Linked DNA regions of Homo sapiens. The protein of the gene in region 1 interacts with the protein of each later gene in a pairwise test. Each region holds a gene or a part of one and is shown in the gene's direction. Other genes may lie near its edges. The genes, in order: ASPH, GUCA2A, WFDC12 and CXorf66.

Region 1 (7,031 bases):
TTGGGGAATTTATATCACAGATTTTTAAAGCAAGTGTCTGCTTTTTATTTTCTTCAGCTTAAGCTGAAAAATGATAAAATGGTTTTCTACAGAGTTCAATTTTACTTTTTTTTCAGTTTTACTCTTTATAATATAAAAGAAACATGAATAAATTAGACTTCCTACCTTTATTTTGCATATAGAACTGGACTTGCATGGCCAGTTGGGCCCAGGGGAAGCCTTTTTCAAATTTATTGATTTGAAAATAGTTTGACAAAGAAGGATCATGATGTCCTTTTGGGCTTATTTTGTAGACACTCGTATGTGTAATGTTTTCTGTTTGTTTGTTTAGTTTTTCCCTTTTGAGTATCACCCCTTAACTCCCTGTATCTCCTAGCAGCTTTCCATCTCCCTGTTTATTTTGTCTGGGTGTCCTGCTACTACATTAACTTTTGCCACTAGGTGTCACTGTAGAATATATCCCCCTTTTAGTTTGAAGCTTGGGGTTATGTAACAGCAGGTTTTAATTATTATTTAATCCGTCTGTATATACTCAAAACTATTGATAGATAAGCACTTAAAAACTCTTAGCTACTTTTTAACTCTCTCAAGGTGTCTCAGTAGATTGAGCAGCCTTTTTGTTTAGGCTTAATTAGAATGAAATATATTCCTGTACTGCCTGTAAAACATTAACAGCTTCATTTGATGAGTATTTGTCATTTAGAAACACACTTCTGAGTTTAGTTTAGCTTCCTTTTTCTTTCTACTTTGAGTGTCTCTTAGATTACTAAGTAACTGAGGGATTCAATACACTGCTGATTGCATTGTGGAGCCCTTGAATGAAGAGGCCCTAGCAAAATTTTCTTTCTTTAGCCAAAGACCATCAGAGCCAATTGCTTAATCCTCCATTACTCATTCTAAGATGAAAACATAGGAGGACCATAATTCTTCCACTGCAAGAACCGTCAGCTATTTTGTGTTCAGTTCAACAGCATTTTGTCCATCCTGACCAAATCATATGAAACCAAGCACTAAATAATGTTCTGAGGGAGTTTATGAACACATTTTCCAGAGACCAGTTAACCTCTGGTGGTCTGTGGAAGTGAAAGTTCTATATTTTGGACTATATTTTAGTCTTGCTTTAAAATAATCTGTCTCATAGAGATTATTAGAAAATGAATGTATGACATTTTCATTTTCAGCCAGTTATCAACAGAGGAACTTGGATAAAGGCTCATAGGGTCTATCCATCTTGTTGTTAGTTAATATCAGATACTTAGCCCCTGAGCTCTCTGGTTCCAATAGAAAAACCCTTTTCTCCAGAAAGCTAGTGCAGTTTGGGAGAAGGAATATGATGACCTGGATCATATCTGTGTAAGAATCAGAACCAAGAATCGCTAAAAATCTCTGTTCCCAGCCTCCTTAAATGTAAAGAATTATTATCTACTTTCTTTTCAGAGTTTTGATATCACTAATGCTGATTTCATATGGCTTTGTGTTTCTCAGTTGTTTCCGTTAAAGTACGTCTAATAGTAGGGGTGAGTGCAAAACTTTGGAGACTATAAAAGTGTAGATGTCATCAGGCCATTGCATGCTTTGACTTTTTTGATGATTTATTCTTATTTATTTATTTATTTTCATGTTCCATAGCATCTTTGTGTTAAGTAAAATGTATATTCTTGAGATAGAGTTTATACTATGCTTTGAGGACTGCTCGATACATTTCTCTCAGCTTCTGGAGGTGTAAGTATCCATTTGCACATCAACTTTCAAGTTGGTGATTTGCCCTTAATGGCTCAGAAATCTGTAACATTATTTTATCTTACCCAGGCTCAGATATATTTAGTCTTTTGAGGTAACTCCAGCCACTGTTTTAATATCATGAAAATATGCAGCTTAGTTTGTGGCTTGGATACTTCCATATCACCTCTAAATGGCTTGACTTCATTCTGTACCAAGGTACAAAAATGTTTTTCAAATGAACTTCTCTTTAATAAACCCTGTATGTACATATAACCTATGTACACCCCACCTAAACCTCCGGGGAAAAGCCTCAGCCATCTATCGGGAAATGTGGAGGTGCAAGGGCTGCTTGCTTCATTATCTGCTGCCAGTGTCTGCTCTGCACTGCACATGTGGGTGTGATGAGTTTCTCTGGTTCGGTCCTGCAGCTCTGGCCATTTTTATTAGAGGACTAAGGATTCAGGATGTTCTTTTCTTCCCTGTGTACCACTGTGGGAGTATAGTCTGGAGGCCAGTGCTTTAACTTTTTTTTAATTATACTTTCTTCTGGTACTGCTGGGAGCCAAGATGGTATTTTCTTGTTAGTCATTATTTTTAAAATTTTAGTATTTTATTCCCCTGATGTGAGGGATGCTTCAGGCTTTTGTCCTGCATTTGATCTTTGTTTTTCAGGGATGTGTCTTGGTTACCTTTGGCTGATGTGGTTATCTTTTAACGGCAAATCACTGAATGTAATTCAGTTCCTATCAAATTGGCCACAGCTGAGGACAAATTTGGTTTAGATAACCTATTAGACTCAAAGGAAATGTTGAGCTCCCTTGGTGAATAACTCTTTTTAAAAAGAAAATCATCTTTTGAAGGATCTGGGCTATTCGGCCCCCTGTGAGATTCAGGTCACTTGCCTAGTCATGTGACTGTCATCATCTGCCGTAGATACTATGTGTGCTCCAGAGCGGAGAGCATTGGTGAATTGACTTGGTTGAGGGGTGGGGGGCTGGGGGGTGGGAGTGGTTGCTGTCCAGTTATAGTCAGGTTTCCAAGGGCAGCCACTATCTCTGTACTTGGAGAAATGCCAGCACTTCTCTCCTACATGTGTGCCCACACGTTGAACCCAGTGACTCATCCTGTACTTAAGACCCCAAGGATCAGTCTTAAATTTAAAGTAGGAGAATATCCTTTGATAATTTTATTTCACAACCAGCATTGTTGTAACTGCCTTTTCTCATATTTTACATAGGTTTGACAGCCATTTCTACCATTCCATAGTGCAGAGTCACTATTATTTTGTTGTTCTATCCTGTCTGTAACTTCTTTTTCTTATTTATTATTCTTCTAATATACAGTTTTTGTCCCTATCTTTCACAGGCTGCTTTCAATTTCAATTTTCTTGGTATACTGGAAAGACTCTTTTGGTCTTAGTTTCACTTGTAAATTTTATTTAGGACACTTAATTTTTTGACTTACATAAACCTCAAAATCTGTGTTGTAAATATTTGTTGAAAGAATATCTAGCATTTAACTACTTTTCCATTCTTTGAATCAAGTCAATTTGTATAAGATGCTTGTCACTGAGTTTTTGTAAGTTGTTTCATGGATTTGCTTTTTGGCAGAGAGCTAGTTCTCTAACCTTTATAATAAAAATATTTCTGTGTATTGCTCTTTAAAATTGTATGTATTTGAAATAGTACATATTTAAGCCTATAAATAATTGTAGAGAGTAATGCAGTGGATGCCCATGTACTGACCATATAGGCGAAGAAATGAAACATTATCAGATTCCTAGATTTTCCTCTCCTGTGGTATTCCTTCCTAACCATTGTTAAACATTTTATGGTAGTCATTATCATAAATACAGGTATATATGCACAAAATAATATATAACATGTAGCACATACACATTATGTATCCACACATGTAAACTGTATCTATTATTAAATCAATGTATTTGAAAACTGCCCAGGAAGTATATCTATATCCCTATGTGTAGAAATATACCTATACACACACACACATATATGTATATATACTGTATAGCACGTATTAAAAGTTTTGTGAACAGGCTTCTACTTGGCATACTATTTTGACAGCATTTGTTTGAAATTCCTCCAAACTCCAGTTCTTTATTTTCACATATGTAGTTCTACACCATATGAATATGCCTTGCTTTTCATTTAGCCATCCTATCGCAGGCCACTTTTTTTCTTTCAAATAATGCTGCCCTGTACATGTATGTGCCTATCTCTCCCCATGCATACATGTCTGAGTGTTTTTCTAGGGCATAATCTGGAATTGGAATTGTGGGTCATAGAAAGTACACACATTAGACTTTACTGGATATTGCCATTTTTTAACCCCCAAGTGGTTGTATCAACTTACAGTTCTGCCCCTAATGAATAAGAGCTTGTTCTGTGCCATCATCACATTGTCAACATTTGGTGAAGTTTAATATTTGCCAGTTGAGTGGCTGTGAAGTAGTACTTGAGGGTTTAAACTTGCATTTTTCTAATTACTAGTGAAGTTACTGGTAAGAGTAGCCTTGTGTTTCCTCCTTTGAATTGCCTGTTCGTATATCTTGCCTATTCTTCTGTTTTTGTTTTGTATTTGTAGTATTGATAGGTAGATTTTTTTTTTTTAATATCCTGAACCTTTTGATTATTTTTGATAAAGGACTTCTCCTAGTCTGTGTTTACTCACATTTTCATTTTTTATGGTATACGTTGTTGAACAGAATTTTAAGATTTTAATATATTAATAGAATTTTTCCATTTTGTACTTTGTGGTTCACACCTTTATACTTTTTGTAAGACACATAACACAGATGTTATGAATTATTCTTGTATTTTCCTCTAAAAGATCTGAAACGTTGCTTTTTTACATTTAGATCTCTGAACCACCTGGTGTAGCATTTTATTGTATATTTTGTTATTAGGGATCTAATTCAGTATTGTTTTTTAAAAAGGGCCAATGAGAATGTCCTGTACTGTTAGTTGATTTGTCATCTTTTTACCGTAGTCTGCAGCATCACCTCTTGTGTATGAATACGTCGGGCTCTATTTTGTTCCAGGCATGTAGAAGCAACACCAAACTGAATTGCTCACTATAGCTTTGTAATGAGTCCACATATCTGATAGGGCATGTCCTTCTACCCTGCCTTTTTCACTATTGTGTTTGCTGCTTTGGGACCTTTCCTCATCCATTTCTCTAGATTTTAGAATCTGCTTATCAAATATGTTCATGAAAAATATTTGAGAATTTTTACTGGCATTGTATTGAATCTATAGAACAATTTGGGACAAATACAGATGTTTATAATACTGAATCTTCTTATACATGCACCTGGCCGGCTGGCCTGCTTTCTCTTCTTTCTTCTTTCTTTTTTCTTCTTTCTTCTTTCTTCTTCTTCTTCCTCTTCCTCCTTCTTCTTCTTCTTCTTCTTCTTCTTCTTTTTTTTTTTTTTTTTTTTTTTTTGAGTCATGACCTCGCTCTTTCACCCAGGCTGCAGTGCTGTGGCAGCCTTGACTTCCCAGGCTCCGGTGATCCTCCGACCTCAGCCTCCCTGGTAGCTGGGACTACAGGCATGCACCACCATGCCTGGCTAATTTTCTTATTTCTTGTACAGATGGGGTTTTGCCGTGTTGGCCTGTCTGCTCTCAAACTCCTGGGCTCAAGTGGTCTGCTCATCTCGACTTCCCAAAGTGCTGGGATTACAGGTGTGAGCCCTGCACCTGGCCTATAATTTCTTATGTATTTAAGTCTGACAATTTTTATAATCTTATTTGAAAGTCATATACATCTTTTATTAGATTAAGTCTGGGTACTTTGTATTTTAAAAAACATTTTCAATAGTATTTTTAAATTAACATTTTTTAATGAAACTTAAAAAATATGTATCCAAATTGAAAGAGTTCTGTAATGACTCCACCATGTAGATGCTACAGCGGTTAACATTTTGATAGATTTGCTTTGTCATGTCTATTAGTCAATCTTATTCTTTCATGCCTTTCGAAGTAAGTTGCAGGTATTAGTATATTTCACTTTCATAAACATTTACATGTGCCTGTAGCTAACTAGAGCTTAGCATTTGTTTTTTTTTCCCTCTGAGGTAAAATTTTCACGTAGTGAATTGCACAAATTTTAGTGTCTGATCTGAGGAGTTTTTATATCCATTTCTACCTTTGTAAAACAATAACCTATTAGGATAGAGAATATTTTCATCACCCTGTAAAGTTCTCTCAAGCCCCTTTCTTGCGTCCACCTCTGCCACCAGAGGCAGCCATTGTACTACATTTTTTGATCATAGATTAGTGTTTTCTATTCTAGAACTTCTTTTGCAAGTACTTTTTTTTGTAAAGTCTCCTTTCACTCAGCATAATATTTTTTAGTTCGTTTATGTTGTGTACACGGTCACTTGTTCCTTTTTATTGTCAAATAGTATTCCAGTGTCTGACTATAGCACAATTTTTTTTAAGCTTTTATTTTAGGTTCAGGGGTACATATACAGGTTTGTTATATGGGTAAATTGCATGTCACAGGGGTTTGGTGTACAGATAATTTTGTCACACAGGTAATAAGCTTAATACCTGCTGAGTAGCTTTTTTGATCTGCACCTTCCTCCCACCCTCCACCCTCAAGTAGGCCCCAGTGTCTGTTGTTCCCTTCTTTGTGTCCGTAGGTAGTCAATGTTTTGCTCCCACTTATAAATATTAATAAGAACATGGTTCTCTGTTCCTGTGTCAGTTTGCTTAGGATAGTGGCCTCCAGCTCCATTCGTGTTGTATAGCACAGTTTTTTAACCCCATCTTTTATTGGTGGACACTTGGGCTAGTTTTGGGTTATTATGAATAAAATTCTATGAATATTATAGAAGCCTTTTTTGACATATGTTTTTATTTCTCTTGAGCAAGAGAGGGATTACTGGGCTATAGGGTAGGTGTATGTTTAGTTTTATTAAGAAACTGTTCAACTCTTTTGCAGAGTAGTTGTACAATATATTTTATACTCCCACTAACCATGTGTGGAATTGGTTGTTCTACATATGTACCAACATTTGGTGGTGTCAGTCTTTTTAATTTTAGCCATTCTGGTGGGTATGCCGTGGCTTCTTACTGTAGTTTACATTTGCAATTCCCTGATGAATAATGATGTCAAGCACTTTTTCTTGTGCTTATTGGCTACACCCATTATCTTTAGTGAAGTTTCTTTTTTGCCCATTTCTAATTTTATTGTTTTTTGTTGCTGAGCGGTAATTCTTTATGTATTCTGGATAGAAGTTCTTTTCAGATATATATAGCACATATTTCTCCCAGTCT
Region 2 (6,747 bases), on another chromosome or scaffold:
GGCAGCCACTGATGGGTTTTCAGAGGGGGAGGCAGGCAGGACAGGTGGCATGGCCTGGAAGGCTATTAGGAGCAAGAGTTTGCCAGAAAAGGCAGTCTTGGAGTGTGGGAAACCCAAACAGCCTCAGACCCTCCTTCTGCCCATATGGAAGAATGAGGGATGTGGGGGTGCTGGGGACCAGGGCCTGAGGACTCAGGGTGTAGGCTGGGGTGGGAGGCAGGAAGCTTGGAGTTCTGGGAAGAGCCCAAGATCCAACTTCCAGCAGCTTCAGAGCAGGCTGCAGAGGTCCTGAGCACCCTGGAGGTTCAGAGGGGAGGGGGCCTGAACTCACGGCTGGGGCCAGACTAGGCAGAGGGGCTTGGGGAACAAGGGAAGGGGAGTTGGTTCCCATTTCCCAGGGTAGAGGTCAGAGGTGGAGTTGGGTAGGGGAGGACCCTAAGGGCCATGGCCTAGGAGTCACTTCCTCTTTCCCACAGTGTGGAGTGATGTCACTCCTGAACCCACTCCATTCCATCCCTGCCTTATAGCAGGCAAGCCTTGGCCAGGGGGGCTGTGGGAGAAAGAGGCTCAGGGATGAAAGCCCCTGCCCTTTACCCCCATTCCTGCCACAGCTTGGGAGGGGAAAGACCAAAATGAGTCAGAAAAAACAGGTCCTCAGCCTGGTGGCCCCACCTAAGCCCCATCCTTAACTGAAAGTCAAATCCCAACCCAGCTGTAGCGTCACACTTAAGCCAGACCCACCCCCATCATAAACCTAACCCAGTCACACCTCCAATCTCTGCTGCAAACTCAACTCCAATCCCAGTCCTGCCAATGAGCCCTAACCTAGCCCAAACCAGCCTCCACGTCAGTTACAAGCACCACATCAGTTCAATCTGGACTGCGCCCTCGGCTCCACACCTAACTCTAATTTACCCCTGCCCAACCTCAGCTCCATCTCAACCTGACCCTAATCCAAACCAACTTTAGTGTCGCCCGAATTGACCCCAATCCCAACCCCGCTCCGGTCTCCGCAAGCCCCGGCTCCAGTCTAGCATGGAGCTCAGCCGCACTCCCGAACTTCTCCCGGTGTTCATCCCCACCCCAGCCTCCGAAACTCCTGCCCCTCACCTTTCCCCCAGCTCCATCCCCCGACATCCTGTTGCTCAGCATCCAAGTCCCACGCCCCGACCCTCAGCCCCATTCCTTCCCCTAACCCCACTCACTCCCACGCCCACTCCCACCTGCCCTCAGCGAGGGGACCAGTGTGTGGCTGACCTTGGTGGGCACACACACATGTCCAGGCACGCACACACACCTCAGTGTATACACACACGTCAGCACACACACACGTCAGTGCACACACACACGTCAGCACTCACACACACCTCAGTGTATACACACACGTCAGCACTCACGCACACCTCAGTGTATACACACACTTCAGCACACACGCACCTCAGTGTATACACACACGTCAGCACACACACACCTCAGCACACACACAGTGTATACACACGTCAGCACACACACCTCAGTGTATACACACACGTCAGCGCACACACACCTCAGTGTATACACACACGTCAGCACTCACACACCTCAGCACATACACGCACCTCAGTGTATACACACATGTCAGCACACACACACCTCAGCACACACACGCACCTCAGTGTATACACACACATCAGCGCACACATACCTCAGCACACACACGCTCCTCAGTGTATACACACATGTCAGCACTCACACACACCTCAGTGTATACACACACATCAGCACACACACAGCTCAGCACACACACACACCTCAGCACACACACAGTGTATACACACGTCAGCACACACACCTCAGTGTATACACACACGTCAGCGCACACACACCTCAGTGTATACACACACGTCAGCACTCACACACCTCAGCACATACACGCACCTCAGTGTATACACACATGTCAGCACACACACACCTCAGCACACACACGCACCTCAGTGTATACACACACATCAGCGCACACATACCTCAGCACACACACGCTCCTCAGTGTATACACACACATCAGCACTCACACACACCTCAGTGTATACACACACATCAGCACACACACAGCTCAGCACACACACACACCTCAGCACACACACACACCTCAGTGTATACACACACGTCAGCACACACACACCTCAGCACACATACGCACCTCAGCACACATACGCACCTCAGTGTATACACACACGTCAGCACTCACACACGTCAGCACACACACACCTCAGCGCATACATGCACCTCAGTGTATACACACACCTCGGCACACACACGCACAACACAGCAGATGCACTCAGCTCAGCATACACACACACACCTCAGTGCACATACACACACATATCTCAGTGCATATACACACATGAGCATACACACACACATACCTCAGTGCACATACACACACCCCAGCAGACACCCCAGCAGACACACATCCCAGCAAACACACACACCTCGGTGTACACACACGCGCCTGTGTATATACACACTGACACACACACACCTCGATGTATATATGCACACCTCCTTGCACAGACACAGATACCTTGGTGTACACGGACACACATATACCCCTCAGCATACACACACATACACCTCAGCATATATACACATACACTCCTCAGTGTACACACATGCCTCAGCACACACACACCTTCAGCACAAGCACACATACAAACACACCTTGGCTACACACACCCATCAGGGTATATACAGACACCTTGGCATACACAGACATACACATCTCCGCAGACACACCCCCCCTTAACACACACACACACACACACACACACACACTCACCAGAAAGGGGTGGGAAATCCAGTGCAGCTGTGAGGACTGCCCTGGGAGCTGGGCCAGGAGCTACCTGCCCCTCCCTGAGGGCCTTGTCCCTGCAGTTCCCTCCTGGTCAGGCCCTGCTCTCTCCAATTCCCTCTTCAGTGTTGACTCTCCCCACCCAGGAATTCCTGCCCAACCTCCCGCCCTAGGGCTGTCCTGGCATCGGGCCAGGTTGGCTGAGTAGAAAGATGACAATCCCAGGGCTACCCTTTCTCCTGTGTCCTGGGGATTCCTGCTCACAACAGCACACAGTGAATGCACGCTGCCCTGAGGGCGCAGTCTGAATGGGGTCAGAGTCTATAGGGGCGCGGGCACACCCAAGCAATTCCCCAGTGAGATCCGCGGAAAGGGGACTGTATCTGCAGGGGCAAGGGGGGCGGGCGGATTGGGGAGGAGCTCATTCGAGGACACCCTGAGGCTGCAGGGCAGGCAGGACAGGATGGGGACCAGCACAGGATGGGGACAGCCTGTGACTCAGACAGGCAGGAGGTCACCAGAGGGGCCAGGGAGGACCAGGAGCTGCTGTGGCTGCTAATAATATGGGAATGGACCTCTGCTGAGCACCTTCTGTGTGCCAGGCATTGAGCTAAATGTTTTTAAAACCTCACTTGATTCTCCAAACAGTAATGCCTACCACACACCTACCCCATGAGGTAGGTATTATTTTTGGTTCCCACAGGGGACACAAGGGACAACGAGACTCAGAGAGGGGAAAGCATTGGCCCAAGTTCACACGCCTCACAACTGGGCAGTAGGTGGAACGGAACCCAGGCTGTGCGGAGGGCTTCCTTGAGGTCGCGGCAATCAAACCCAGACCCTGACTTGCCCTGCAGCCTCCCCCGTGGAATTTCTCACATTTCCCTGAATATTCCAGGCCCGTCTCACCTCCTGGCTGTCCCTTTGGCATGAAATGGCCTTCTGTCCTCAGTCCCTTCTCTGGGAAAACTTCCACCCATTCTCCAGAGCTCAGCCCCCAGTGCAGCCCCGTCACCTCATCCTAGGATCACCCCACCCTAATCGCCCTGCGTTTCACTGTCGGGCTGGGCCCCCCTCCTCAAGGGCAGGGTCTGCCGGCCCCACACAGCAGCACAGGGCAGTCGTGAGTGAATGTGCCTTGTTGGTGAATGAATGCAGGACCCAGCCCGGCTGTGGGTCAAAGTAGGTGCTCAGGGAGGGGCCGGGGCCCCCCCTGCCTGGCTCTTATCTCCTAGGGCTGTCTCGAGCCTTATCTGATAAGGCCTGACAGGTGAGCAGATGAGACTGACAGAGGCTTCCAGGTTACTCAGTAACCTGCCCTCTTTAAAAGTCCCGCCGCTTCCCCCTGGCATCCAGAACAGCCACCCCTCTCTCGGGCACTGCTGCCATGAATGCCTTCCTGCTCTCCGCACTGTGCCTCCTTGGGGCCTGGGCCGCCTTGGCAGGAGGGGTCACCGTGCAGGTGAGTCCTGTGTCCCTACCCCGGCCCAGCTGGCTCCCTGCCCCTAGTGCCCAGGTCTGGTCCCCTGAGAGAGTACCTCCTCTTTGGGGCTGGATTGAGGGTGTGTGTCCCAGGCTTGGCCTTCTTCGAGGAGCTCCTGCTCAGTCCAGCCACACACACACCTTTCCCTTCAACTTTGGAGGAGAAAGAAACCCAGTGGAGGGAAGAGGAATAACCATATGGGGAAGGCGGGGAGTTGGCCAATTTACTGAGTGTCCTATGTGCCGGCTCCTTCCCCAGCCCCTCACTGTGGCTCCACTATCAACCTGGAAGAAAGGGATCATTAGTCCCATTTTACAGAGGGGAAAACTGAGCCTCACAAAGGTTCTGTAACAGGCCATGGGCACATGGCTGTGGGAAGTGCAGGAGCTGGATTTAAATCCAGACCTTACTCCTCAGTGGGTCCCAGGAACCACATGGACACCCTGGAGGTCCTGACAGATGGGTATGCCTACCAGTGCCAATGCTGGCGACAGGCCAAGCTGGCACCTAGCGGGGGCCCTGATCTCTATCAAAGCCAGATTCCGGGAGGCCTTTTATTGCTTCTCAAACCAAAACCAGGCTGCAGGCTGGAGCTGGGGGCCCAGTAATCAGCCGCACCGCTCTCAGGCAGGGGAAAGACAGCCTGGGCTTGGCCACGTGGAACTACGATGCCTGGGTGCTGGTCCTTTGCCTCTCCCTAAAAATCAGCACACTGGCTCCTACTCATTAGGCACCTATGGTGTTCCTGGAGCTTCACACCCATTTTCTCCATTCCCCATACAACATGCAGAATTTGCGGGTTCCAGAGTGTCCAGCATCACGGAGCCAAGCCAGGACGTGGGGCCTGAACTCTGCCCCTCACAGTGCCCCACTGTGGATCGCCTGGCTCCCATATGCCACGAACACTGCCTGTGAGCACCACTGGGCTGGACCGGGGCCAGCACGGGGGGCACAGCCAGGAAGCAGGCTGCAGCCTGGCCTCATGCTCTGGGCTTCTCTCTTCCAGGATGGAAATTTCTCCTTTTCTCTGGAGTCAGTGAAGAAGCTCAAAGACCTCCAGGAGCCCCAGGAGCCCAGGGTTGGGAAACTCAGGAACTTTGCACCCATCCCTGGTGAACCTGTGGTTCCCATCCTCTGTAGCAACCCGAACTTTCCAGAAGAACTCAAGCCTCTCTGCAAGGAGCCCAATGCCCAGGAGATACTTCAGAGGCTGGGTGAGCAGCCTCCTTCCTCTCTGATTGGTGGGGTTCGGGAATACTGTGGTGGCACTTGAGGAAGAGATGTGCTCTGATTGGTGGGATTTGGAGGAAGGGCTCAGCTCTGACTGGTGGAACTAGGGAGCTTGGCTCTGATTGGTGGGTCTGTTCCATGCCCACTTCAATTCCAAGTTGTAACTGCTGAGGTTTGGGAACTAAGACCATTCATCTGGTCTTAGTTTCCTCTCTTTCTGGTGGAATCTCTGCTTTGATTGGTTGGTTTGAGTGGTCTGTGTGCCCTGGTTTGGGGCGAAAAGCCCAGTAGGTCAGAGTACGGGCCTGCTGAGATTCTCCTGGGGCTGGGTGGTGACGTACAAGCTCTGGGCCAAGGGCGGCAGGGGCCTCGCGAGGAAATGCTGGTTCTCACGAGGCTCCATCTCTGTTGTGCAGAGGAAATCGCTGAGGACCCGGGCACATGTGAAATCTGTGCCTACGCTGCCTGTACCGGATGCTAGGGGGGCTTGCCCACTGCCTGCCTCCCCTCCGCAGCAGGGAAGCTCTTTTCTCCTGCAGAAAGGGCCACCCATGATACTCCACTCCCAGCAGCTCAACCTACCCTGGTCCAGTCGGGAGGAGCAGCCCGGGGAGGAACTGGGTGACTGGAGGCCTCGCCCCAACACTGTCCTTCCCTGCCACTTCAACCCCCAGCTAATAAACCAGATTCCAGAGTACTCTGGGTGTTGCCTTCCTTCCTTCCTTCATCCCCTAGTCTATCCTGCCCTGGAAGCTCGGGATGTAATGTACTAAGCGAAGGACCCCACTCTCCCTGCTAAGCTGCTCACTGTCCCTGGGGCTGCCACAACACAGAGGCGTGGAGAGGATCTGGATCTCCAAACCACCAAGGCAGCGGGTGGTGGGGAGGGTTTGCTTTTATTTCACATCTCCTGAGGTCACCAAGTTCACTGAGCCACATGTGAGCACGGGAGCCAGTCTGAGCTGGTTTGGACAACCAATACAGGCACTTGGCCCACTAGAAGACTGGCACCAAACTCTTGGGTATTCAAGGACTTGGCTCCCACCAGCCATGCTAGTGTGGCCTCCAGCCCTGACCACATCCCAAACCACACCTCTTGCCATTTCCTCTGCTGCTGCTCACCTCTCCACTGCCCGTCTTCCCACACTACTGTCCAGGCAAACTCCTACTCAGGGTCCAAGGCTTTCATTCCACGGCCTCTCCT
Region 3 (6,445 bases), on another chromosome or scaffold:
CCTCAGCCTCCCAAGTAGCTGGGATTACAGGCATGTACTACCACACCCAGCTAATTTTTGTATTTTCAGTGGAGACAGTGTTTCACCATGTTGGCTGGCTTGTCTTGAACTCCTGACCTCAAGTGATCCGCCCGGCTTGGCCTCCCAAAGTTCTGGGAGTACAGGCGTGAGCCACCACGCCCAGCCAAAGATCAAGATTTTAATGTCAAGAGCATCAGCATAGAACTTTGCAGTTATCCAGTTTCATTTAGAGTTATACAGCTTCCTTACAAAAGGGAGGAACTGGCAAATCAACGAAGCGGATTGCTGTTTTAAGCCAGTACAGAAGTAAAAGATTGACGACAATGACCCTCCAGTATAACAACATTTAGTCCCAAGAATGATGATGTCCTTCATTCCACCTTTTGTACATACCTCAAAAGCCACAGTATTTCACCATACCCACTTACCAAGCAAACTCCCCATCTTTTGTCAAAGTAAAGTGCTACATTTACTACATAATTTCTTTATTAGGAACTGAAGATGTTTAACACTGTGGTCATGTTTTTATTGGGTGTGGGTTCTGTTTGTTTGATGTATTACTTATGAGACTGCACAAATATTGAATGTTCTACTTCAACTCTATTTTTTCCAGAAGCCCTATTATTTGTAGTGAGCAAAACTCTGTAACCTAATGATTTTCAGGAATATATATTCCACGTTTATGAGAAATATATCTTCCCTTTCATTCCCTGTCTTAGACTCCGCCATTTTGGTTCAAGGCTTTCCACTTTCTTGAAGCACATAAATAAATGATGCCCAAAAAAGACAATGAATGTGAAATCTGGTTAATGTAATTCACAAAATAACAGATTGAAGAGACAATCCATATATTTATTTCAATTGATGAAGAAAAGGCATTTGATAAAAATTCAACATCCTTTCATGAGAAAAACTCTTAGCTAACTAGAATTAAAAGGGAACTTTATTAACCTGATTCAGCAGAACATGGGATGAATTCCACAAGGTCACATGGCATGGGCTAAGGAATGCCTTTACTGGGTGAAACCAGTGAGCCAAGGATCAGCACTCCTAAGCATGGGATACTCCCAGCAGACACTCCCATCATTACTCGCTTCAGCCTACATTGAGGTGTTCTGAGGCCATGCACAGCTATTAGTCAGTGAGGCAGGACAGCAGCGTTTCTCAACATCAATACTATTGGCACTTGGAGACAGATCATTGTTTGTTGTGAAAAGCTGTCTTGTGCATTGTTAGATATTTAGCAGCAACCTCAGCCTCTAGACACTGGATGTGAGAAGCACATCTGTCCCAGTTGTGACAATCAAATATGTCTCCAGACATTGCCAAAGTCCCCTGGGGACAAAATAACCACCTTTTGAGAAGGTAGTTTACTACTACAAAACAGGAACATTGTCCCCTGCAATTTTACCTTCTTATAATATGAATATGAGAAGTTCCTTATGGGGCTTGCTTCCTAGACAGTCTAGGTTTCTAGGAAACCTAAATGTAAGCCTAAATGTATTTATATATATACATATATAAACATATTTTTGCTATGTATATATGTATATATATATGTAAACATATTTTTGCTATTGAGTTGCAGTTCTTTATATATTTTGAAAATTAACCCCTTATCTGGTAGGTAGTTTGCAAATATTTTTCCCATCTCACAGGTTGCCTTTATTACTAAATATTTTACATGTTATTGCTTTTAACGTATTACATTTTTCTAACCAATATTTCTAGTGTATAGAAAGCAGCTGACTTTTATATATTGATTTTTGTGTCAGCTAATCTTGAAAAATTGTCTAACTCATGATGTATCTGTAGTTTCTTTTGTGTTTTTATTATTGCATCATTTGCAAACAATGGCTTTTCTCGTCTCCCATTCTAATACTTATTTCTTTTCTTTTTCATTATATATATGTGTGTGTACATATGCATATATATATATATATACACACACATATAAATATAAAGACCCAATTAAAAGTGAATAAGACTTAAACAGACATTTCTCCAAAGAAGATATACAAATGGCCAACAGGTATGTGAAAAGATACTCAACATGTCTAATCATCAGGAAAATGAAAATCAAACCATAAGATCACCTCATACCTGTTAGGATGGCTTTTATTTTAAAAAGAAAAGAAAAAGAAAACAAGTACCGGTGAGAATGTGGAGAATTTGGAACCCTTGTGCACTGTCAGTGAGAATTTAAAGGAGTATAGCCACTACGGAAAACAGTATGGAAGTTCTTCAAAAAATTAAAAATAGAGCTATCACATGATCCAGCAATCCCCCTTCTGGGTATTTATCCAAAAGAATTTAAATCAGGATCCCAAAGAGATATTTGCACCTGCAAGTTCATTGCTGCAATATTCACAATAGCCAAGAAATGGAAACCTAAATGTGCATTGACCCATTGACAGATAAATGAGGGAAGGAAAAAGATTATATACATGTACATATATATGCATACCATGGAATATTATTCAGCCATAAAAAAGAAGAAAAGTCTATCTCATGCTACAACATGGGTGAACCTCAAGGACATTATGCTAAGCAAAATAAGCCAGTCACAAAAGGACAAATATGGCATAATTCCACTTTTATGAAGTGTCTAAAGTAGTCACTTATAGAAGCAGAAAACAGAATGGTGGTTCCAAGGGTCTGGGGGTGGGGGGAATAGGGAGTTGCTATTCAGTGGGTTTCAGTCATGCAAGATGAAAAAGTTCTAGAGACCTACTGTATGACACTGTGCCCACAATTAACAATACTGTTAGTATGCACTTAAAAATATGTTAAGAGGTCATGTCTTATAGTATATATTTCTTACCACAATTTTTTAAAAAAACACGGTGTTGAGCAAAGCATGCAAAATACAAAAGAATACTTAGGCCATAATTACGCTTACACGAAATTAAACAACACGTATCACTAAGCAAGCCATAGCAAGAGAGCAAAACTTTAAAGGAAAACATGAGGATGATTAACAGAAAGTTCAAGATAGTGGTTACCTCTGAAGTAGGGATGGTAATGTCCTATTCTAAATTGATAGGTTCATAGGTGTTTATTATTCTTTTTCAAAAGGTATAGAATGTTGATTACATTCTTTCATATGTAGGATTTATTTTACAATACTTTTTTTAAAGAAGTATCATCAACAGTCAATTACAAATGACATTTTGGGGAGAACCGGAGAAACAAATATGAACTGGCTATGAGATGACATGCAGAAACTATTAATTATCTTAGATATGATAATGGCTTTGTGATTATATTGAAGAATATCCTTATTCTTAGAATTTGCATGCTGATGTATTTAGGAAATAGGAACATAATGTATTCAATTTCATTTCAAATATTTCAACAAATGTAGCTATAGGTATTCTAAAATATCCCAAACTATTAATAATTGTTAAATCCAGTTGTAGGTATACAAGTATCATTGTTCTGTTATTTCAATTTTTCTGTATGTTTAAAAAGTTCATAATAAAAAGGTGGAGGAGGAAATAGCCAATACATTCCAACATTCTAGTATTTGTTTATGAACTTCCCAGATTCCATCCCTGGTATCCAAATGATCTGAGTCCAGTGATATGACTGGTGAGATTGTAACCAAAGATTCACCACCTAATAAGGAGTAGGCTCACTTCCAGGAATGGAGGTATCCTCCCTGCCTCCACTTAACCCCAACTCAGTCCCTTCCACACTTCAGGATGTGGAACACCCCAAACCCAAATCTTTGCATTACTCAGGGGTCCTGTTAGTAAATGACAGAAATCCAATTCAGACCAGCTTAGGCAGAAAGGTGAATGTATTGGGTGGTAACATAACCCTGGGTATGAGTGGGGCTGATCTCAGGAAAAAGTTTAGTGAAGGACTAGATATCCTCTAAATTACTCCCTGTCCATCTCTCATCTCTTTTTATCAGCATCTTAGATTTATCTTCTCAGAATTTCTCTCTCACCAGGGCCAGGACCAAATTTCTGGAGTTTCTGGGCTTATATCTGCAACTTTTCCAACAGGAAGGATTTTCCTCCCTTTAGTACTCATTCAAAGAAAGGACCCCAAAAGCCTGGTCACACACACACACACACACACACACACACACACACGCACACACGTCCATGTCTTCTTCCAAATCCAGGAATTTGGGGGATGCAGGGGCAGAGGAGGGAAAACAAATCCTATGAAGATGATACAGTATAATTATTATGCTCATTGTATGAATGAGGAAACGGAGGCTTAGAAAGGTGAAGCTGCTTTCAAAGTCACACAGCTGGTGACAGGTCCAAAATCTGCTTTCCTCCAGGCCACATGAGATTGGCGGGGGGCAGGAGCACACGGTGCTGGAGCGCAAGGCTGAGAGTGAATGTTCAGGACAGACATTTTAAGCACTGCCATTCAGATTCTTCCTTGGGGTGAGGTGAGAACTGAGAACAAGTCCGGGGCAGCACAGGAAGGAGGGAAGATTTTGGTCCCAGGTGAATCAGGCATGAAGAGGGACTGATAGAGAACACGGTGGAGTTGAGGAAGTCTGGCCCTGCCACTGCCTCGTGTGTGAACTTGAGTAATTTCATGCCCTTTCTGTGCTTCTTTTCCTCCTTCCATAAGATAGTTTGGCCCTGGTGGCGCCTAATGGTCAATCACGTGTCCATTTCTTCTCCTCGTGTGAAGAACGAGGGTCGCTCTTGGATTTCTTCATCTATTCCAGTGCAGAGCCTTAGGGAAAGCCCCAAGTCCCTCCTCAGAAGGGGCCATTTCCAAATAGAGCTGGGAAGTGCAGCCTCCCTTGCCATTTTGAGCCTTCAGCTCCACCCACTGGCATGCCCAGCAGGAACACTATAAAGCCAGGCTCAGCCCAGCTCCCAGCCAAGCACCTGCCTGGCAACATGGGGTCCAGCAGCTTCTTGGTCCTCATGGTGTCTCTCGTTCTTGTGACCCTGGTGGCTGTGGAAGGAGTTAAAGAGGGTGAGCAGACATGGTGGAGCTGGGTGGGGCTGGGCTGGGGAGAGGTCCTGAGGGGCCCTCTGGGGCTGGAGTTCTCATATCACCTTGTGGCTTCCTCCACTAGGTATAGAGAAAGCAGGGGTTTGCCCAGCTGACAACGTACGCTGCTTCAAGTCCGATCCTCCCCAGTGTCACACAGACCAGGACTGTCTGGGGGAAAGGAAGTGTTGTTACCTGCACTGTGGCTTCAAGTGTGTGATTCCTGTGAAGGAACTGGAAGAAGGTAAGGAGACCTGCCTCCCAGGGCTGGGGCTGTCCCTTCCCTGCCTCTATCTGACCCATGAAAGTTCGGAGGAATTAGTCCCTTTAGCTGGTGTGGGGAGGGATGGCTAAAGCTGGCAGGGCCCTCAGAGACCACCTAGTCTGAACATCTCCATTGTCCAAAGGAGGAAACAAGGATGAAGATGTGTCAAGGCCATACCCTGAGCCAGGATGGGAGGCCAAGTGTCCAGGCTCCTCCTCTACCAGGTGTCCTCAGAAATGATGCTGGGTCCTTTCTACCTCTGGGGGTCACTCTCACTTGGCACCTGCCCCTGAGGGTCCTGAGACTTGGAATATGGAAGAAGCAATACCCAACCCCACCAAAGAAAACCTGAGCTTGAAGTCCTTTTCCCCAAAAAGAGGGAAGAGTCACAAAAAGTCCAGACCCCAGGGACGGTACTTTCCCTCTCTACCTGGTGCTCCTCCCTAATGCTCATGAATGGACCCCTCATGAATGAAACCAGTGCCCTTATAAGAGACCCCAAAGAGCTGCCTTGCCCTTCTGCAATGTGTGATCACAGCTAGAAGGCACTGTCAGAGAAGAGAAACTGGTCCTCACCAGATGCTGAATCTGCTGGTGCCTTGATCTTGGACTTCCCAGCCTCTAGAACTGTAAGAAATAAATATTTGCTGTTTATAATCCACCCAGTCTATGGTAATTTGTTATAGCAGCCCAAACCTGCTAAGACAACCTAATAGTAAAAAAAAAAAATCCTATTCAACATTATCAAAGTGAATAAAATATAAAATACCTACAAATAAATCTAGAGATGTACAGAAATTTTCTGAAAGGAAACCCTAAAACTTTATTAAATGACATTTTAAAAGATCTGGATAAATAGACTAAACTTTTCTACAGAATAAATAAATAAATGTTTTTTAAAAGATATGCTCTTCCCCAAGCAGGAAGCCTCCTCAAAGTGTTCACCTTGGTCAGCATAATTTATACCTGAAATATAATTAAAATTAAAACCCACTGGGTTTTGCAAACCCTAATGAAATAATTGATTCTGGCAATGATTATCCATGGCTTCTGAATATTTACAGGGTGCCATTTCATCACCCTGTGGTATATTTACAGTTTGTAAGAGGGAAAACACAAGTTTACAACTTGAGGATTCAGGTACACACCGAAAACACATTAATCTGTCTCCACAATGCT
Region 4 (7,492 bases), on another chromosome or scaffold:
GTTTCTCTTTATGTCACTTTTATTCTTTGTTTATTTATTTTGAGACAGAGTCTCACTCTGTGGCCTAGGCTGGAGTGCAGTGGCGTGATCTCGGCTCACTGCAACCTCTGCCTCCTGGGTTCAAACAATTCTCCAACCTCAGCCTCCCAAGTAGCTGGGATTATAGGTGTGTGCTACCATGCCCAGCTAATTTTTGTATTTTTAGTAGAGACGGGGTTTCACCATTTTGGCCAGGCTAGTCTCGGACTCCTGAACTCAAGAGATATGCCCGCCTCAGCCTCCCAAAGTGCTGGGATTACAGGCATGAGCCACCACACCCAGCCACTTTCATCCTTTCTAATTAGCTTACTCCTGCCATCAGGGGCTGTGTCACAGGTACCTTTGGACATCTTTTCCAGGTTTACTGCGCTGGTGGTAAGGGAATTTCTCAGCCCAGATTGTTTGAAAAATCTTTGGGGAAAACTTCTGATTAGCCTGTCCTGAGTCACATGCCCAACTATAAACCAATCACTATGGTTAGAGATGGGAACCGATTACTGGTCTAGCCTGAGCCACATGCTCACCCTTGTGGCCAGGAGAGAGGGATACTATAATTGTTAGTTCTTATCAAGACCATTTGGTTGAGGTGGAAAGAAGTGGTTTTCCAAAATGATAGATTTCCTGCCCCCAAGAAGATAAAACAATTCATTATGTCTGTGAAAAAGAGAAGGAAGGACTGTAAAGTTCCATATATATGTATATATGATCAACCCTATTGATTATATTTTATGTTATTTACATATTCTACCTCCTTAATAATTTTGTGTCCACTTGATTTATCTTGAGCTGAAAGTTGTGTAGTATAACTTTGCTTCTATCTATTTGTTCTTATATCTCTTCTACTTTTTGTTTCATAAAGTTAAACACTAGAGTTGATTGGCAACCACTCACTTTCCATTTGGGGACTCTTCTGCTTCTCTTTCTGGCCCCCATTCTCAAATTCCCTTCAGTCCCTGACTCCTGATATTAACAACATAGGTATTATCTGCTGGCCTACTTTATCAACTCTCTAAAAGTGGGTACTATACCCAATAATAATAACATTTCTTGACCACTTATTTTATTTTATTTTATTCTATTTTATTTTTTTTGAGATGGAGTTTTGCTTTTGTTGCCCAGGCTGGAGTGCAATAGCGCGATCTCGGCTCACTGCAACCTCCGCCTCCTGGGTTCAAGCGATTCTCCTGCCTCAGCCTCCCGAGTAGCTGGGACTACAGGTGCCTGCCACCACACCTGGCTAATCTTTGTATTTTTAGTAGAGACGGGGTTTCACCATGCTGGCCAGGCTGGTCTCAAACTCCTGACCTCAGGTGATCCACTCTCCTTGGCCTCCCAAAGTGCTGGGATTACAGGCGTGAGCCACCGTGCCCAGCCACATGTGACTTTTTTTTTTTTTTTTTTTTACAAGGAAATGGTTTAAGCATTAGTTGTGTATTTTTTTTAAATATTTTTATTGCAGAAAATTAATATAACATAAAATTTACTATTTTAACCATTTCTGAGTGTACACTTCAGTGACATCAAGCAGATTCACATTGCTGTACAGTCATCATCACATCCATATCCAGAAGTTTTCCACCATCCCAAACTGTACCTCTGTCCCCATTAAACAATAATTCCCCGTTCCCCACTCTACCCAGCCCCTGGTAACCACCATTCTACTTTCTGTCTCTATGAATTTGACCACTCTAAGTACCCCATATAAGTGGAATCATATAATATGTGGCTTATTTCTTAGCATAATGTTTTCAGGGTTCATTCATGTTGTATTATATATTGGAATTCCCTTCCTTTTTAAGGCTAAATATTGTTCCGTTGTATGCATATACCGCATTTTGTTTACCCATTTATCTGTTGATGGACATTTAGGTTGTTTCCACCTTTTGGCTATTGCGAATAATACTGCTATGAATATCAGCATATGAATAGTTGTGTGATTTTTTTAAATCCTGAAAAGGAATATTTATAGAATGTTCCCATTTATATGTAGTATGGGTGTGCATCATGTACATAGATATGTATGTAAATATGTAGAAAGAGATCTGAGAGATGCACATCAAATTTTTGTGTCATTGTCTCCAGAATGGGGATAGAGTGGAGTGGGGAAGGAAAAGAGTCTATAACGTTTTATTCTGTATATGTCTGTCTTGTGTATTTTTCATAATGAGAATGGGTTAATATTAATATATTCCTAATGCAATTTTAAAGTGCAATTAAAAATAGAGATGAAGATTTCAGGCATCTTCACAAGCTGTGAGTAAGGAATATTTAAAGCAATTTTAAAGGGGTCAGAAGATCTCAAGGGATAAAGGAAGTCTGAAATACCTCTGTGTGATTTAAAATTTTTATAAGGTGCATATATTTTTTTAATTAAAAAAAATCAAATAAGGGGAAAAAGTTGAAGGCCCAAGGCGGAATTGCACTGTCAATTGAGGTCCAGAGGAGGGCAGTAGAAATCCCCAAGGTGGCAACCCCAGAAAGGTTCCTCTCACCCGGATGAGGGCAAAGGTTCAAACTTGCCATGTGGGTGCTGGGAAGAGCTTAGGAGCTTTTCCTACTACTGATTCCTATAGATATGACGCCAGCCAGACATTGGAAGCAAGACAATCAAATATAATGGCGGAAATCAGAAAAGTGGTACAGGTTAATCTCTGGAGAACCAAGGAGAGAGAAACCAGGAGCAGCCATTCTTCACCAAGAATCATTACACAAGGGCCCAGGAGCAGCTCTCTGGGGAAAATGACCTAGTGAGATTTTTAGGGGTCTTGGGGACACAGCCCTGTTAAGTACCTGGCTAAGTCCTTGGACCCTTCCCCTCTGCTTTTTAAAGTGGAAAAGAATAAATATGGCCCTGCAGGCTCAAGATACAGAGCTGGGATTAGGGTGAGGGGAGTGGGACAGGCTCATGCAAATGCAGAATCAGATCCTGTCTTTATTTAAATGTTCAATATTTTGTTGGTCATAGATTTTTGGCATTAATTTTGGTTTTTAAATATCACGTTAAAATCTTATTTGATTACTGAATTTTGCAACACCCCTTAAATTTTGTGCTACAGGCAAATATCTCACTGGGTTTTACTCTAGTCCTGGCAACAATCAAAACAATAACAACAACAAATATGAAGCAAGAAATGGGGTTTTATAGTGTACTTATTATATACAATTTTTATCAAAATAATACCTAGAATTTCTGAGTGAAATCTATTATTACTAACATGCTAGTCATGTAAACTTGCAAATGAAATAAAAATCATATAAATCTATGTTAAAGCCAAAGAAAGTAAAGTGTTTTTGTAACCATTATGAATATGAAGTTAATGTTCAAATTAATTTGGAAGCTGTTTCTGAAATACTGGCTTTAAGATATTTGTCTACCATGTATCCAACACTAGGGAAAAAAAAAAACCTGATTTCTTTTTTTAAAAAAGGTGACAGATACATTCTTTCACTTTATAAGCCCTATTCAAATTTTCAAAAGCAGCTTATTCAAAAGCAATAGAATAACATTTTCTGATTTTTATACAGTTAAAAAGTATGAGCAGGATTATTTAGACCTTCAGGGTAAAACTGAGTTGTATTTTTTTTTTTTTGGTTTTTTATTTTTTTTAAGATGGAGTCTTGCTCTGTCACCCAGGCTGCAGTGCAGTGGCGCCATCTAGGCTCACTGCAACCTCTGCCTCCTGGGTTCAAGTGATTGTCTTGTGTTAGCCTCCTGAGTAGCTGGGATTACAGGTGCCTGCCACTACGCCCGGCTAATTTTTGTATTTTTTTTTTTATGGTAGAGAGGGGGTTTCACAATATTGGCCAGGCTGGGGGTTTTCCAATTAATGTTTAATTTTATTATATTCCAATGGCCCCAAATGCATAATTTCAAACACTGTCACCTTTATAGGACATGTTCTTTCATTTCTTTTTTACTCTTTATTTTATTTTTTTTGAGACAGAGTCTTGCTCTGTCGCCCAGGCTGGAGTGCAGTGGCGCAATCTCGGCTCACTGCAACCTCCACCTCCCAGGTTTAAGTGATTCTCCTGCCTCAGCCTCCCAAGTGGCTGGGATTACAGGTGCCCACCACCATGCCCAGCTATTTTTGCATTTTAATAGAGACAGGGTTTTACCGTGTTGGCCAGGCTGGTCTTGAACTCCTGACCTCAAGTGATCCGCCCACCTCCGCCTCCGAAAGTGCTGGGATTACAGCTGTGAGCCACCGTGCCTTGAACCCGGGAGGTGGAGGTTGCAGAGAGCCAAGATGATGCCATTGCACTCCAGCCTGAGCCAAACTCCGTCTCAAAAAAAAAAAAAAAAAAAAAAGTCATTTGGTAAAATTTGTATACAGAAGCTTATGCTTCCCTATGGTGAGATTATGTTGTCAGAGTATGACACACAATGGTAATGATGTCATAAATGCCTAGAACACTCTGAACTGTATAAATTCAGTAGTTACCTTAGTAGACAAATCATTTGAACCAAGTTGCGGACATGAATCTTGTTATTTGTGTCCTACTTTTGTCCATTTGGAAAAATAATTGCATGACTACAAACCAAACCAATGGATCTTCTACTACAGGTAGGTGCCTAACCTTAAAACTTGTAAATTATGATCTGTTACAGTATACATTAAAGTATTTAATTAGAAACGCCAGCTGTATTTAAGAAATCTGCTGTTACTTTTAGCAGTGTTAACATTAGTAGGTCTTCAAGAATTTCTAATACAACAGCTGATATTAAAAAACTTAAGCAAAATATAAGCATCAAGATGACAGACTTATGGTCCTCCTTTACCACCCTTCCCCACTCAATATACCAACCTGTCCCCACCAAACTAGCTAATACTATATAAATGAATCTGGCAAGGGACTTAACATACAGTAGGGGTTTATTTTTGTTTTTTGTTTTTTTTACTTCAAGTTCTGGGATACATGTGCAGAACGTGCAGGTTTGTTACATAGGTATACATGTGCCATGGTGGTTTGCTGCACCTGTCAACCCATTATCTAGGTTTTAAGCCCCACATGCATTAGGTATTTGTCCTAATCCTCTCCCTCCCCTTGCCCCCAACCCCCACAACAGGCCCCAGTGTGTGATGTTCCTCTCCCTGTGTCCATGTGTTCTCATTGTTCAACTCCCACTTATGAGTGAGAAAATGAAGTGTTTGGTTTTCTGTTCCTCTGTTAGTTTGCTGAGAATGATGGTTTCCAGCTTTACCCATGTCCCTGCACAGGACATGAACTCATTCTTTTTTATGGCTGCATAGTATTCCATGGTGTATATGTGCCACATTTTCTTAAACCAGTCTATCATTGATGGGCATTTGGGTTGGTTCCAGGTCTTTGCTATTGTAAATAGTGCTGCAATAAACATACGTGTGTATGCGTCTTTACAGTAGAATGATTTATAATCCTTTGGGTATATATCCAGTAATGGGATTGCTGGGTCAAATGGTATTTCTGGTTCTAGATCCTTGAGGGATTGCCACACTGTCTTCCACAGTGGTTGAACTAATTTACACTCCAACCAACAGTGTAAAAGCGTTCCTATTTCTCCTCCCCTCATCAGCATCTGTTGTTTCCAGACTTTTTAATGATCACCATTTTAACTGGCATGAGATGGTATCTCATTGTGGTTTTGATTTGCATTTCTCTAATGACCAGTGATGATGAGCTTTTTTTCATATGTTTGTTGACCACATAAATGTCTTCTTTTGAGAAGTGTCTGTTCGTATCCTTCGCCAACTTTTTGATGGGGGTGTTTGTTTTTTCTTGTAAATTTGTTTAAGTTCCTTATAGATTCTGGATATTAGCCCTTTCTCAGATGGATAGATTGTAAAAATTTTCTCCCATTCTGTAGGTTGCGTGTTTACTCTGATGATAGTTTCTTTTGCTGTGCAGAAGCTCTTTAGTTTAATTAGATTCCATTTGTCAATTTTGGCTTTTGTTGCCATTGCTTTTGGTGTTTTAGTCATGAAGCCTTTGCCCATGCCTATGTCCTGAATGGTATTGCCTAGGTTTTCTTCTAGGGTTTTTATGGTTTTAGGTTTTACATTGAAGTCTTTAATCCATCTTGAGTTAATTTTTGAATAAGGTGTAAAAAAGGGATCCAGTTTCTGTTTTCTGCACATGGCTAGCCAGTTTTGTCAGCACCGTTTATTAAATAGGGAATCCTTTCCCCATTACTTGTTTTTGTCAGGTTTGTCAAAGATCAGATGGCTTTAAATGTGTGGTGTCATTTCTGAGGCCTCTGTTTTGTTCCTTTGGTCTATGTATCTGTTTTGGTACCAGCACCATACTGTTTTGGTTACTGTAGCCTTGTAGTATAGTTTGAAGTAAGGTAGAGTGATGCCTCCAGCTTTGTTCTTTTTGCTTAGGATTGTCTTTGCTATACAGACTCTTTTTTGGTTCCATATGAGATTTAAAGTAGTTTTTTCTAATTCTGTGAAGAAAGTCAGTGGTAGCTTGATGGGAATAGCATTGAATCTATAAATTACTTCAGGCAGTATGGCCATTTTCACGATATTGATTCTTCCTATCCATGAGCATGGAATGTTTTTCCATTTGTTTGTGACCTCTCTTATTTCCTTGAGCAGTGGTTTGTAGTTCTCCTTGAAGAGTTCCTTCACATCTCTTGTAAGTTGTATTCCTAGGTATTTTATTCTCTTTGTAGTAATTGTGAATGGGAGTTCACTTATGATTTGGCTCTCTGCTTATCTATTATTGATGTATAGGAATCCTTGTGATTTTTGGACATTGATTTTGTATCCTGAGACTTTGCTGAATTTGTTTATCAGCTTAAGGAGATTTTGGGCTAAGATGATGGGATTTTCTAAATATACAATCATGTCATCTGCAAACAGAGACAATTTGACTTTCTTTCTATTTGAATACGCTTTTATTTCTGGCCCGATTGCCCTGGCCAGAAGTTCCAATACTATGTTGAATAGGAGTGGTGAGAGGGCATCCTTGTCTTGTGCAGGTTTTCAAAGGGGATGCTTCCAGCTTTTGCCCATTCAGTATGATATTGGCTATGGGTTTGTCATAAATAGCTCTTATTATTTTGAGATATGTTCCATCAATACCTAGTTTATTGAGAGTTTTTAGCATGAAGGGGTGTTGAATTTTATCAAAGGCCTTTGCTGCATCTATTGAGATAATCATGTGGCTTTTGTAATTGGTTCTGTTTATGTGATGGATTACATTTATTGATTTACGTTTGTTGAACCAGCCTTGCATCCCAGGGATGAAGCCGACTTGATGGTGGTGGATAAGCTGTTTGATGTGCTGCTGGATTCGGTTTGCCAGTATTTTATTGAGAATTTTAGCATCAATGTTCATCAGGGATATTGACCTGAAATTTTCTTTTTTTGTTGTGTCTCTGCCAGGTTTTCATATCAGGATGACGCCGGCCTCATAAAACGAGTTAGGGAGGAGTCCCTCTTTTTCTATTATTTAAAATAGTTTC

What was found.
Region 2: the proteins of ASPH (region 1) and GUCA2A interact in binary tests that used the Homo sapiens proteins (3 or more experiments, as listed by UniProt).
Region 3: the proteins of ASPH (region 1) and WFDC12 interact in binary tests that used the Homo sapiens proteins (3 or more experiments, as listed by UniProt).
Region 4: the proteins of ASPH (region 1) and CXorf66 interact in binary tests that used the Homo sapiens proteins (3 or more experiments, as listed by UniProt).

What each region holds. Positions count from the first base shown.
Region 1 is NC_000008.11:61,704,564-61,711,594, reverse strand, and holds part of ASPH (aspartyl/asparaginyl beta-hydroxylase), read left to right. Parts: intron 1-7,031.
Region 2 is NC_000001.11:42,162,183-42,168,929, reverse strand, and holds GUCA2A (guanylin precursor), read left to right. Parts: upstream 1-4,184; 5' UTR 4,185-4,217; coding exon 4,218-4,292; intron 4,293-5,319; coding exon 5,320-5,527; intron 5,528-5,959; coding exon 5,960-6,024; 3' UTR 6,025-6,240; downstream 6,241-6,747.
Region 3 is NC_000020.11:45,122,907-45,129,351, reverse strand, and holds WFDC12 (WAP four-disulfide core domain protein 12 precursor), read left to right. Parts: upstream 1-4,886; 5' UTR 4,887-4,904; coding exon 4,905-4,983; intron 4,984-5,086; coding exon 5,087-5,245; intron 5,246-5,408; coding exon 5,409-5,506; 3' UTR 5,507-5,927; downstream 5,928-6,445. UniProt on the Homo sapiens protein: Antibacterial protein. Putative acid-stable proteinase inhibitor.
Region 4 is NC_000023.11:139,962,521-139,970,012, reverse strand, and holds the start of CXorf66 (uncharacterized protein CXorf66 precursor), read left to right. Parts: upstream 1-4,491; 5' UTR 4,492-4,516; coding exon 4,517-4,604; intron 4,605-7,492.